Homo sapiens: one gene and its partners. The protein of the gene in region 2 purifies or fractionates together with the protein of the main gene of each other region. This does not show direct contact. Each region holds a gene or a part of one and is shown on either strand. Other genes may lie near its edges.

The links.
Region 1: the proteins of PRSS22 (region 2) and DDX19B purify together in Homo sapiens (affinity purification with mass spectrometry; one large-scale study listed by BioGRID and IntAct). This does not show direct contact.
Region 3: the proteins of PRSS22 (region 2) and TCP11L1 purify together in Homo sapiens (affinity purification with mass spectrometry; one large-scale study listed by BioGRID and IntAct). This does not show direct contact.

The regions. Positions count from the first base shown.
Region 1 is NC_000016.10:70,326,599-70,330,251, reverse strand, and holds part of DDX19B (ATP-dependent RNA helicase DDX19B), read right to left. Parts: intron 961-3,653; coding exon 783-960; intron 422-782; coding exon 184-421; intron 1-183. UniProt on the Homo sapiens protein: ATP-dependent RNA helicase involved in mRNA export from the nucleus.
Region 2 is NC_000016.10:2,852,223-2,855,316, reverse strand, and holds the end of PRSS22 (brain-specific serine protease 4 precursor), read left to right. Parts: intron 1-1,294; coding exon 1,295-1,452; intron 1,453-1,987; coding exon 1,988-2,224; 3' UTR 2,225-2,587; downstream 2,588-3,094. UniProt on the Homo sapiens protein: Preferentially cleaves the synthetic substrate H-D-Leu-Thr-Arg-pNA compared to tosyl-Gly-Pro-Arg-pNA.
Region 3 is NC_000011.10:33,046,038-33,049,690, reverse strand, and holds part of TCP11L1 (T-complex protein 11-like protein 1), read right to left. Parts: intron 1-3,653.

The DNA of each region.
Region 1 (3,653 bases), about 67 Mb from region 2:
GTTTTCTCCAAGTAATCACTAAGAAGTGGAATCAAAGTCTCCCTCTTACGACTCACTAAAACCTTAGGAGAACAAACCACTTCGTTTCTTCCCATGGCACCCAGGGGCATCCAGTCCTCCTGAGCCCTGTGGGGAGCTGGCTGAGAGGGAAGGGCCAGGCCTGCCACTGCCACTGCTACTCACATGGCAGAAGATCATGGCTTGAGCAATGGTGATGGCCCCGTAGAGGTTACACAAGGCCTGGAACTTCTCGTCTCTGCTGCTGCACAGGACATAGTACTGCTTGATGGTGTCCAGGGTCTCTTCCTCACGCTTCAGTTTGATAACGTTTGGGTCTGGGACCACTTTCTGGGCAAACTTCCACACAGAGTCTTCAAAGGTGGCGGAGAAAAGCAGCATCTGGCAGTTCCTGGGCAGCATCCTGCAAGGGAAGGCCCTGGTAGGTGGCCCCAGGTGGCCCCGGGAAGCGACAGAAGCACAGCCTTCCCAGCTGGGAGGGTCTAGATGCCCAGGAAGGCTGATGGGAGAGGAGCGTCTTGGGGAGGAGGAGCAGCAGGCCTGGGATGGGGACAGGGGTTGGGGGAGAGTCCCTAGGTCTCCTTTCTCAACCCAGGCTGGGAGGGACTGTGGCCAGCGCTGACACGGAAGTGGCCCGTCAAACAAATGCTGCTGAGAGTACGAGAGCCAAGACCCAGGCAGAAGCCAGAGGAGGCATCTGAAGTGAAGGGAGAAGACACTGCAGATGGGGAATCTGAGGAGTCCCCCACCCTCGAGATCCCTACCTCTGGATGCGGATGCTCTGATCTTGGTGGCCCTGAGTGGCTATCATGACATCAGCCTCATCCAGAACAAACACCTTGATTTTCTTGGGATCAATGAACTTGAGCTTGGAGCACCAGTCCAGCACAGTCCCAGGGGTGCCAATGACAATCTGCTCACTGATCTTCTGGCCTCTTTCCACTGTGGAGACCCCAAGATGTTTTCCATGTGTGGGTATTTCTTTCTTTCTTTTTTTTTTTTTTTTTTTTTGAGACAGAGTCTCACTCTGTTGCCCAGGCTGGAGTGCAATGGCATGATCTCGACTCACTGCAACCTCTGCCGCCCAGGTTCAAGCGATTCTCCTGCCTCAGCCTCCCAAGTATCTAGGATTACAGGCACCTGCCACTGCACCTGGCTAATTTTTTTTTTTTTTGTATTTTTAGTAGAGGTGGGTTTCACTCTCTTGGCCAGGCTGGTCTTGAACTCCTGACCTGGTGATCCACCTGCCTCGGCCTCCCAAAGTGCTGGGATTACAGGCATGAGCCACCGTGCCCGGCCTCCATGGGTATTTCAAAGGCAAAGCCAGCTCTTCTCTCTGAGAAATTCTAAACCTATTATATATTTTAATGCAAATGTTTTGCTGTTTGCATTAATATATTAAGGAAAGGTTAGGATATCACTATAGCATTTAATGGACATAAAAACAGACAAAAATGCTGAAAAGGTAATGGGTACAAAAATACAATTAAAATAAGTAAGATCTAGCATTTGATAGCACAATGTGGTGACTACAGTCAACAATATATTGTACATTTAAAAATAACTAAAAGGGCCGGGCACGGTGGCTCATGCCTGTAATCCCAGCATTTTGGAAGGCTGAGGCAGGCGGATCACCTGAGGTCAGGAGTTCGAGACCAGCCTGGCCAACATGGCGAAACCCCATCTCTACTAAAAATACAAAAATTAGCTGGGTGTGGTGGTGGGCTCATGTAATCTCAGCTATTTGGGAGGCTGGGGCAGGAGAATCGCTTGAACCCAGGAGGCGGAGGTTGCAGTGAGCCGAGATCGCGCCACTGCACTCCAGCCCGGAGACAGACTGAGACTCTGTCTCAAAAAAAAAAAAAAAAAAAAAATTCAGAATTCTCTACCCTTCTAATTCGAATACAAATTGCAAAATTTTAAATGATTATCTCCCAATAAGTTTCACTGTATTATTTACTTTTCAGAACTGGCCTCAAGTTGGCATTAGGACACTGTATGCAGACTTGATTTTCATAAGGTCACATTTGTTTCAGAGATCCATAAAACTCAACCAAACCTCTAACACTTTTTTTTTTTTGAGACAGAATCTCATTCTGTCGCCCAGGCTGGAGTACAGTGGTGCAATCTCGGCTCACTGCAACCTCCCCCTCCCGGGTTCAAGCAATTCTCCTGCCTCAGCCTCCTGAGTAGCTGGGATTACAGGTGTGCACCACCATGCCCAGCTAATATTTTTGTATTTTTAGTAGAGACTGGGTTTCATCATGTTGGTCAGGCTGGTCTCGAACTCCTAACCTTACAATGATCCACCCACCTTAGGCTCCCAAAGTGCTGAGATTACAGGTATGAGCCATCATGTCCGGCCAACAACACTTTTAAAATTACTTAAATAATATTAACTGTAAAACAAACTAGTGTAGAAAAAATTAGTAACAAAAAATAATTAACAGAATAAGCCCCAGAGTCAATAGCCATAAACATTCTGGGTTTTTATTCTGCTAATGAAGATAAATAAATTAGGCAATTAAACAAATTCAGTCCTGGCCTAGTGGCTCACACCTGTAATCCCATCACTTTGAGGGGACGAGGCAGGAGGATTGCTTGAGACTTGGAGTTCTAGACCAGCTTGGGCAACATAGCAAGACACTGTCTTTACAAAAAAAAAAAAAATTTGTTTGTTTTTTTTTGTTTGTTTTGTTTTGAGACAGAGTCTTGCTCTATCGCCCAGGCTGGAGTGCAGTGGCACGATCTTGGCTCACTGCAACCTCCACCTCCCGGGTTCAAGTGATTCTCCTGCCTCAGCCTCCTGAGTAGCTGGGACGACAGGCACATGCCACCACACCTGGCTAATTTTTCTATGTTTAGTAGAGATGGGGTTTCACCATGTTGGCCAGGATGGTCTCTATCTCCTGACCTCGTGATCCACCCACCTCGGCCTGCTAAAGTGCTGGGATTACAGGCATGAGCCACCATGTTTGGCCTACAAAAAAAATTTTTAGAAAATTAGCTGGGTGTGGCCAGGCACGGTGGCTCGTGCCTGGAGTCAGAACTCCAGCCTAGGTGACCTAGCGAAACTGTCTCAAAATAAAAAAAAGAAGGCGGCCAGGCGCAGTGGCTCACGCCTGTAATCCCAGCACTTTGGGAGGCCAAGGCGGGAGGATCACGAGGTCAGCAGATAGAGACCATCCTGGCTAACACAGTGAAACCCCGTCTCTACTAAAAATACAAAAAATTAGCTGGGCGTAGTGGTGGGCGCCTGTAGTCCCAGCTACTCAGGAGGCTGAGGCAGGAGAATGGTGTGAACCCCAGAGGCAGAGCTTGCAGTGAGCCAAGACTGTGCCACTGCTCTCCAGCCTGGGCGACAGGGCGAGACTCTCTCTCAAAAAAAAAAGAAAGAAGTCTGGGCACAGTGGCTCACACCTATAATCTCAGCACTTTGGGAGGCCGAGGCAGATGGATAACCTGAGGTCAAGAGTTTGAGACCAGCCTGGCCAACGTGGTGAAACCCCATCTGTACTAAAAATACAAAATTAGCCAGCCATGGTGGCAGGCACCTGTAATCCCAGCTACTTGGGAGTCTGAGGCAGGAGAATCACTTGAACCCGGAGGGCAGAGGTTGCAGTGAGCCAAGATCA
Region 2 (3,094 bases):
GAGTGCAGTGGTGTGATCCTAACTCACTGCAGCCTTTGCCTCCCAGGCTCAAGTGATCCTCCCACCTCAGCCTCCCAGGTAGCTGGAACTACAGGTGTGTGCTACCACACCTGGCTAATTTTTGTATTTTTTGTAGAGACAGGGTTTTTCTGTGTTGGCTGGGCTGGTCTTGAACTGTTGGGCTCAAGCAATCCACCAGCCTCAGCCTCCCAAAGTGCCGGGATTACAGGTGTGAGCCACTGTGCCTGGCCTCATTTCTACTTCAAAAGTATCTGGCTATGTTTTGAGGCAACAGCCAGACCCGTGAAGCTATTCAATTCATCAATACAGGAATGGCTGAAAGGGGGTGTGTGTGGGACTAAGCTGAATACAGGGTGAATATAAAGAGGCCTGATTCCAGAGTGGGAACAGGCACCCCCTGGTGGTAGCATGCCACAATTGCGGGCAAAATTCTCGGGAGAAAATGCAGCCACCTTAATTGTAAAATATAATTTTCAAACCACCACTGGAGGTTTGGAAAACATCATCTCAAAACTCAAACTAGATTACATAAAGCAAGAAGCAGGGAAGCAGCAAGAGAAAGGTAGATGACAGATCGACAGGCAGATGGATGATAGAGACTGGGCCAAGGAAAAGAAACATACAGGCAGAAATGAGGATACAATGAAGACCTGGAAGAAAGAGTTTGAAAGAGAGAGCTAGAGACTAAGTAATAACAAAGTGTAAGACAGATGAAAATTTAACCAGATTCCAGAATAATTAAGAGAAATGACACTAGCTCAGGTGTGTGGGGATCCCAGTAACTCTGAGGTTGCAACCTCTCCATGATCTCTGTAGGGGCTTCTTCAAGAGCTAGAATCGCGGACTTTCAGTCCACAATCTGCAGACCACAGTCTGTAGACCAGCTCCAGGCAAGGCGTGGGGATCCCTCAGGTCCTGGTAATTTTCAACATCGAGTGGACATTTATTGAACACTTCTTCTATAGCAGTCCCAGTGCTGGATGAAGTAATGCAGTATCTGAGACAGGAAGGGCTCTAACCATCTGTGGATATAAGAAAATTTATTAAAGAGGTAGGGTCTTAGGTTTCACATTCATGTTCTAATTCAGCAGGGCCAGAGGTGGAGACCTGGAATTTCAATTTTCTGAAGGCATCTTGGGAGAGACTGGTAGAGCTAATCTGTTAGCCTTTGAGAACCGCTGCTGAGAGGAATGGTGTTGGGGGGGAATAGTCCTTTGAGGAGGCAACGAGGAGGGGAGACCCCCAAACCTGATTCTGTCCTCTTTCCTCCCAGTTCCCTTGCCCCACCCTCAGACCCTGCAGAAGCTGAAGGTTCCTATCATCGACTCGGAAGTCTGCAGCCATCTGTACTGGCGGGGAGCAGGACAGGGACCCATCACTGAGGACATGCTGTGTGCCGGCTACTTGGAGGGGGAGCGGGATGCTTGTCTGGTGAGCTCCCTCGAGCCCCCCACCCCTGGCCAGGAGGGCCTCGGGAAGGAGCCAGCGTCAGTCCTGTCCCCACTGAGCCCCACAACCTCTCCCTGGCCTCCTCCCCAGAACTGGCTGTGCCTGACAGTCCCGGGTCCCCATAGAACCAGCCTCAGCCTGGCTCAGCCACTCACTTATTTGTTCAGACATTAAACTGGGCATCCCAGCTGCACCACCTCGCCCTCCGCGAGCTTTCATTTCCTTCAGGGGGCTTCCCACGCCTCAGTGCCCAGAGCCAGCTGTAGCTCAGGGGCTGTCTGGAAGACGGTCAGATGGTGCAGCGGCAGCACCCGCGCCTGGACGTCTTAAGGCCTGGCTGCAGCTCCTACTCTGCCGCCGGGGACTTCTCACCTGGGTGGAGCTCAGGTCCTGTCTCCTCCAGGAAGGAGAAACGGGCTCCCGGGAAGGGGCTCATCTGCCCCCTGACAGGGCACGGGCCCTGGATTCTGCCACCCCCTGTGCCACGGGGGTTCCTAACCTCGCCTCCTCTCTGCAGGGCGACTCCGGGGGCCCCCTCATGTGCCAGGTGGACGGCGCCTGGCTGCTGGCCGGCATCATCAGCTGGGGCGAGGGCTGTGCCGAGCGCAACAGGCCCGGGGTCTACATCAGCCTCTCTGCGCACCGCTCCTGGGTGGAGAAGATCGTGCAAGGGGTGCAGCTCCGCGGGCGCGCTCAGGGGGGTGGGGCCCTCAGGGCACCGAGCCAGGGCTCTGGGGCCGCCGCGCGCTCCTAGGGCGCAGCGGGACGCGGGGCTCGGATCTGAAAGGCGGCCAGATCCACATCTGGATCTGGATCTGCGGCGGCCTCGGGCGGTTTCCCCCGCCGTAAATAGGCTCATCTACCTCTACCTCTGGGGGCCCGGACGGCTGCTGCGGAAAGGAAACCCCCTCCCCGACCCGCCCGACGGCCTCAGGCCCCGCCTCCAAGGCATCAGGCCCCGCCCAACGGCCTCATGTCCCCGCCCCCACGACTTCCGGCCCCGCCCCGGGCCCCAGCGCTTTTGTGTATATAAATGTTAATGATTTTTATAGGTATTTGTAACCCTGCCCACATATCTTATTTATTCCTCCAATTTCAATAAATTATTTATTCTCCAGTGTCTGTTTTTTCCCATGCCTGGGGACACTGGAAAGCAAGGGTCCAGAGGGGGTTAAGGTTGGGGGTTGGATGTTGGCCTAGCCAGAGACTGCGTGGTCCTGTCCACCTGGGGCTGACGCCGACCCCTGCTTCCACCTAGGGTTCAGCCTTCTGACCCCTGACCTTTGCAGCCCTGGGCCACCCTCCCTTTTATCCCTCTCCCACCAGGGCAGGGCAGCCGATGGAGAAGGGGCAGAGTCTAGAGGCCTGGAAGACCCAGCTCTGGTGCTTCAGGAAGGGGAGGAGAGGGGTTGGGACTCCGAAACTGTGCGTTGGATTCCAAAACAGGGCTGGTGAGGAGAAACCCAGCCCCATGAGAGTGAGGTGCTACCTCTCTACCCCAGGCCAAGCCCCCCCTTCTGCTCTCTCCACCACAGGCCTCAGGGGCCTCAGGATGGCAGAGCTGCGGGTGGTGGTGGAGGGAGGCGCCCAGGTGAGCCCCATCAGAGCCCCGTCTCCGTGGGCT
Region 3 (3,653 bases), on a different chromosome or scaffold from region 2:
GAGGTGCTAGCGGCAATACTGCTCTTTAATGCACCCAGAAGTTTGTATCCGTGCACATCAAGGCACAGTACCTTTCCTTAAACTTATTTATGACACAGAGACCTTTGTTCACAGGTTTCCTGCTGACCCTCTCCCCACTATTACACTATTGTCCTGCCACAACCCCCTCTCCAAGATGGTAGAGATAATGATCAATAAATACTGAGGGAACTCAGAGACAGGGTGCAGGTCCCCTGGGCCCACTTTTCTTTCTCTATACTTTGTCTCTGTGTCTTATTTCTTTTCTCAGTCTCTCGTCCCACATGACGAGAAACACCCACAGGTTGTGGAGGGGCAGGCCACCCCTTCAAAAATAATCAATGTCTTACCATCTGAAATTTATGAAAACAACAGAAATACATCACATCAAGTCCTCTGGGTGAATTTTTTTTTTTTTTTTTTTGAGACGGAGTCTTGCTCTGTCACGAGGCTGGAGTGCAGTGGCGCGATCTCGGCTCACTGCAACCTCCGCCTCCCGGGTTCAAGTGATTCTCCTGCCTCAGCCTCCCAAGTAGCTGGGACTACAGGCGTGTGCCACCACACCCAGCTAATTTATGTATTTTTAGTAGAGACAGGGTTTCACCATGTTGGCCAGGATGGTCTTGATCTCTTGACCTCATGATCCACCTGCCTTGGCCTCCCAAAGTGCTGGGATTATAGGCATGAGCCACCGCGCCTGGCCGGATTTGTTATTTCCCAATAATTTTAGTCATCTGGGTAATAATAGGCACCGTTACTATGCTGCCTAGTCATGAAACACAGTGGCTGGAGCAAATCAGGAAGGAATTTCACTTCCTCTGGACTCTGTTGAGTACGGCCTTGAACAAGTCACTTAAATCTTGCAGGGTCAGTGTTTCTCCATATGCAAAAAGAAGAGACTTAAGGGTGTGCTATGAAATATAAGAATCCTCCGAATTTTAAACAAGTGCATTCTCAGTGTTTTGGGCATACTTGGAAAAAAACAGCTTGCACCAAGTACTAAGAACCTCACCATTAGGAAGAAGAAAATTTTCAGGAACTGTCCAAGTTAAGAGACTACTTAAAATCAAACTTATCAATGACAGGTATCTGATCATGATAGATAAAAGCTACAGTTCTAAGATATGATCAGGACATGTTACCGATGTACATACAGAGGAATTATTCACTGCATACAAATTATAGGGTTGTGGGGATTTTGTTTTGTGAGAGTTCTCAAATTTACCAATTTCATAAATGAAAACTTGGTAAGGATTGCATAAAATTGCATAAAGATGCAATTTGGTGGACAACACGTCTTCACCTCAATTTGTTAAGAGAACCTGGGTTGTAATAAGAGCCATGAAAAATGGTAAGGTCAACTCAGACATGGTGGTGCACACTTGTAGTCTCAGCTACTAGGGAGGTTGAGGTGGGTGAATCACTTGAGCCCAGGAGTTCAAGGCCAGCCTGGGCAACATAGAGTGATCCGGTCTTAAAAAAAAAAAATGTAAAGATACATGTAACTTACCCTGGAGTTTATCTTACGTGATACAAAGCTAAAGTTGTTGCTAAATTTTGTTATTTTGTTACAGCATTTGCGCACTGATGCCCTGTTAGAGAAACTGAAAACCATATTAGGTTAAACATGACTTTAGAGAGGCTGGCAGACAGATTCCAAAATAAAATGAAGTTCTAATTTAGAATGGTTGTACTCTCTATCTTTACTAAGGTGTCCTGAGATGCCTATACACTCTGAAAAGATGCTGTTAGTTACATAAGTGGACGGACATTTATGGAGGGCAAGATTGCAACTGTCACCCAAACAGCTACTATAGAATGAGCACAGTAAAACCAGGGTACAGATTACCCATAGTACTTATTATGTTGTTGGAAACTGCTTGTTAATTTGTCTTCCTGGTCGCTAGCCTGCAAGCTCCATGAGGACAGAGACAATATGTGCCTGGTTCACTGCTGGATCCCTGACATACAGTATGCACTCAATAAATATTTGACTGACTGAATACAGAGACACCATAATTCAAAGTCTAGTCATGAGCTTTAGAAATGTAAGTTCTCGTGTCATCTATTCATCTAAAGATGACTGGGATCTACTAATTAAATTCACAAGGACCTGATCCAATAAACAAAGGTCCTAAGTGGGAGATATTAACTGGAATAACAATTGATGTTTGTCATCTGAATATAGCATCTTTTACTGGTCAACTAGGTGATTAAACGTTAGAACAGAGGGTATTTTGTGAGAAGAGCATTAAAGTATAAGTAGTAGAAGATTTTAGAGAAAACATTGTTAAGTTACAGTTGACTGATCCTTACTCTGTTTAAAGAACAGATAATCTTTTACAATCAAATCACCACCTCAAATCAGTACCAATAAATTTTTTACAAGCCAGCCATTTTTCCTTTTTCAATATTCTGCATCGGTTACATCAGAATTCTACTCTTTTTTTTTTTTTCTTGAGATGAAGTTTCGCTCTTGTCCCCTAGGCTGGAGTGCAATGGCACAATCTCGGTTCACTGCAACCTCTGCTTCCCAGGTTCAAGTGATTCTCTTGCCTCAGCCTCCCAATTACAGGCACACACCACCACTCCCGGCTAATTTTTGTATTTTTAGTAGAAACAGTGTTTCACCATGTTGGCCAGGTTGGTCTCGAACTCCTGACCTCACCTCAGGTGATTCACCTGCCTCAGCCTCCCAAAGTGCTTATAGGCATGAGCCAATGCGCCTGGCCTAGCAACTCCACTCTTAAAGTATTACTCTGTGTTATAATTTAAAACAATAAATGTTCTCTTTTTGCTACTTACGTTTTAATTTGTAGAATTCCAAATATGATTTTAGAGTTACTTTAAACTCAGTAGCTACAAATTTACAGAGTTTGGGGGAAATGTCTGTAAACTGTTAATTCCATATTTTGTAAATCCTTATTTATGCTCTATGTGTTCAATAATGCTTCCTTACCTGATGCCCAGATAATGAGGTCTTAGCTTTATCTTTTGGGTTTATAGCCCTGTACCTACCTAGCACTACAGGAGAAATAGGAAGGCAGCCAAAAGGAATACCTTAGGGCATTGATTTTAAACCTTATTTTGGTACAGACTACTAAGAGAACTTAATGAAAGCTTCCACGACCTTATTCCTAAAAACATGCATATACAAACAAATGTTGATATACTTTTTTGGTTATTACTAGATCCCCTAAATCTTGATCATAGGTCCCAGGATAAGTATTCTTGCCTTAAGGGCATAACTACACACAATTTCAGATAATGTAGCTTAGTACTGGTTTGACATTAATTTGGAATCATGCCATCAGGCTGACAAGATGCCAAAGGCGAAGCCATCAACCAAAGAATGGCTGAACCTATAAAAGTTAAAATTGTTTAAAAAAATTAAAACCAATCAACCAACTGTTGGGAGAAGCTAAAGCAGGGCTTGCATGTCTCACTTAATGTAAAAGAGTCTTGGAACATGTCCAGGGTCCAGGGTCTAAAACCCCTCATGGCCTTGGGAACACCAAGCTCTGTGCTAAAGGGCAGAAGGCTGCCCTGCAGCACCATAATCTAAGCCCAGGGCATAAAACCCTTCGTGGCTTGAATGGAATCCAGGGCTCAGGGCGTGGCCTCTGGAATGTGTC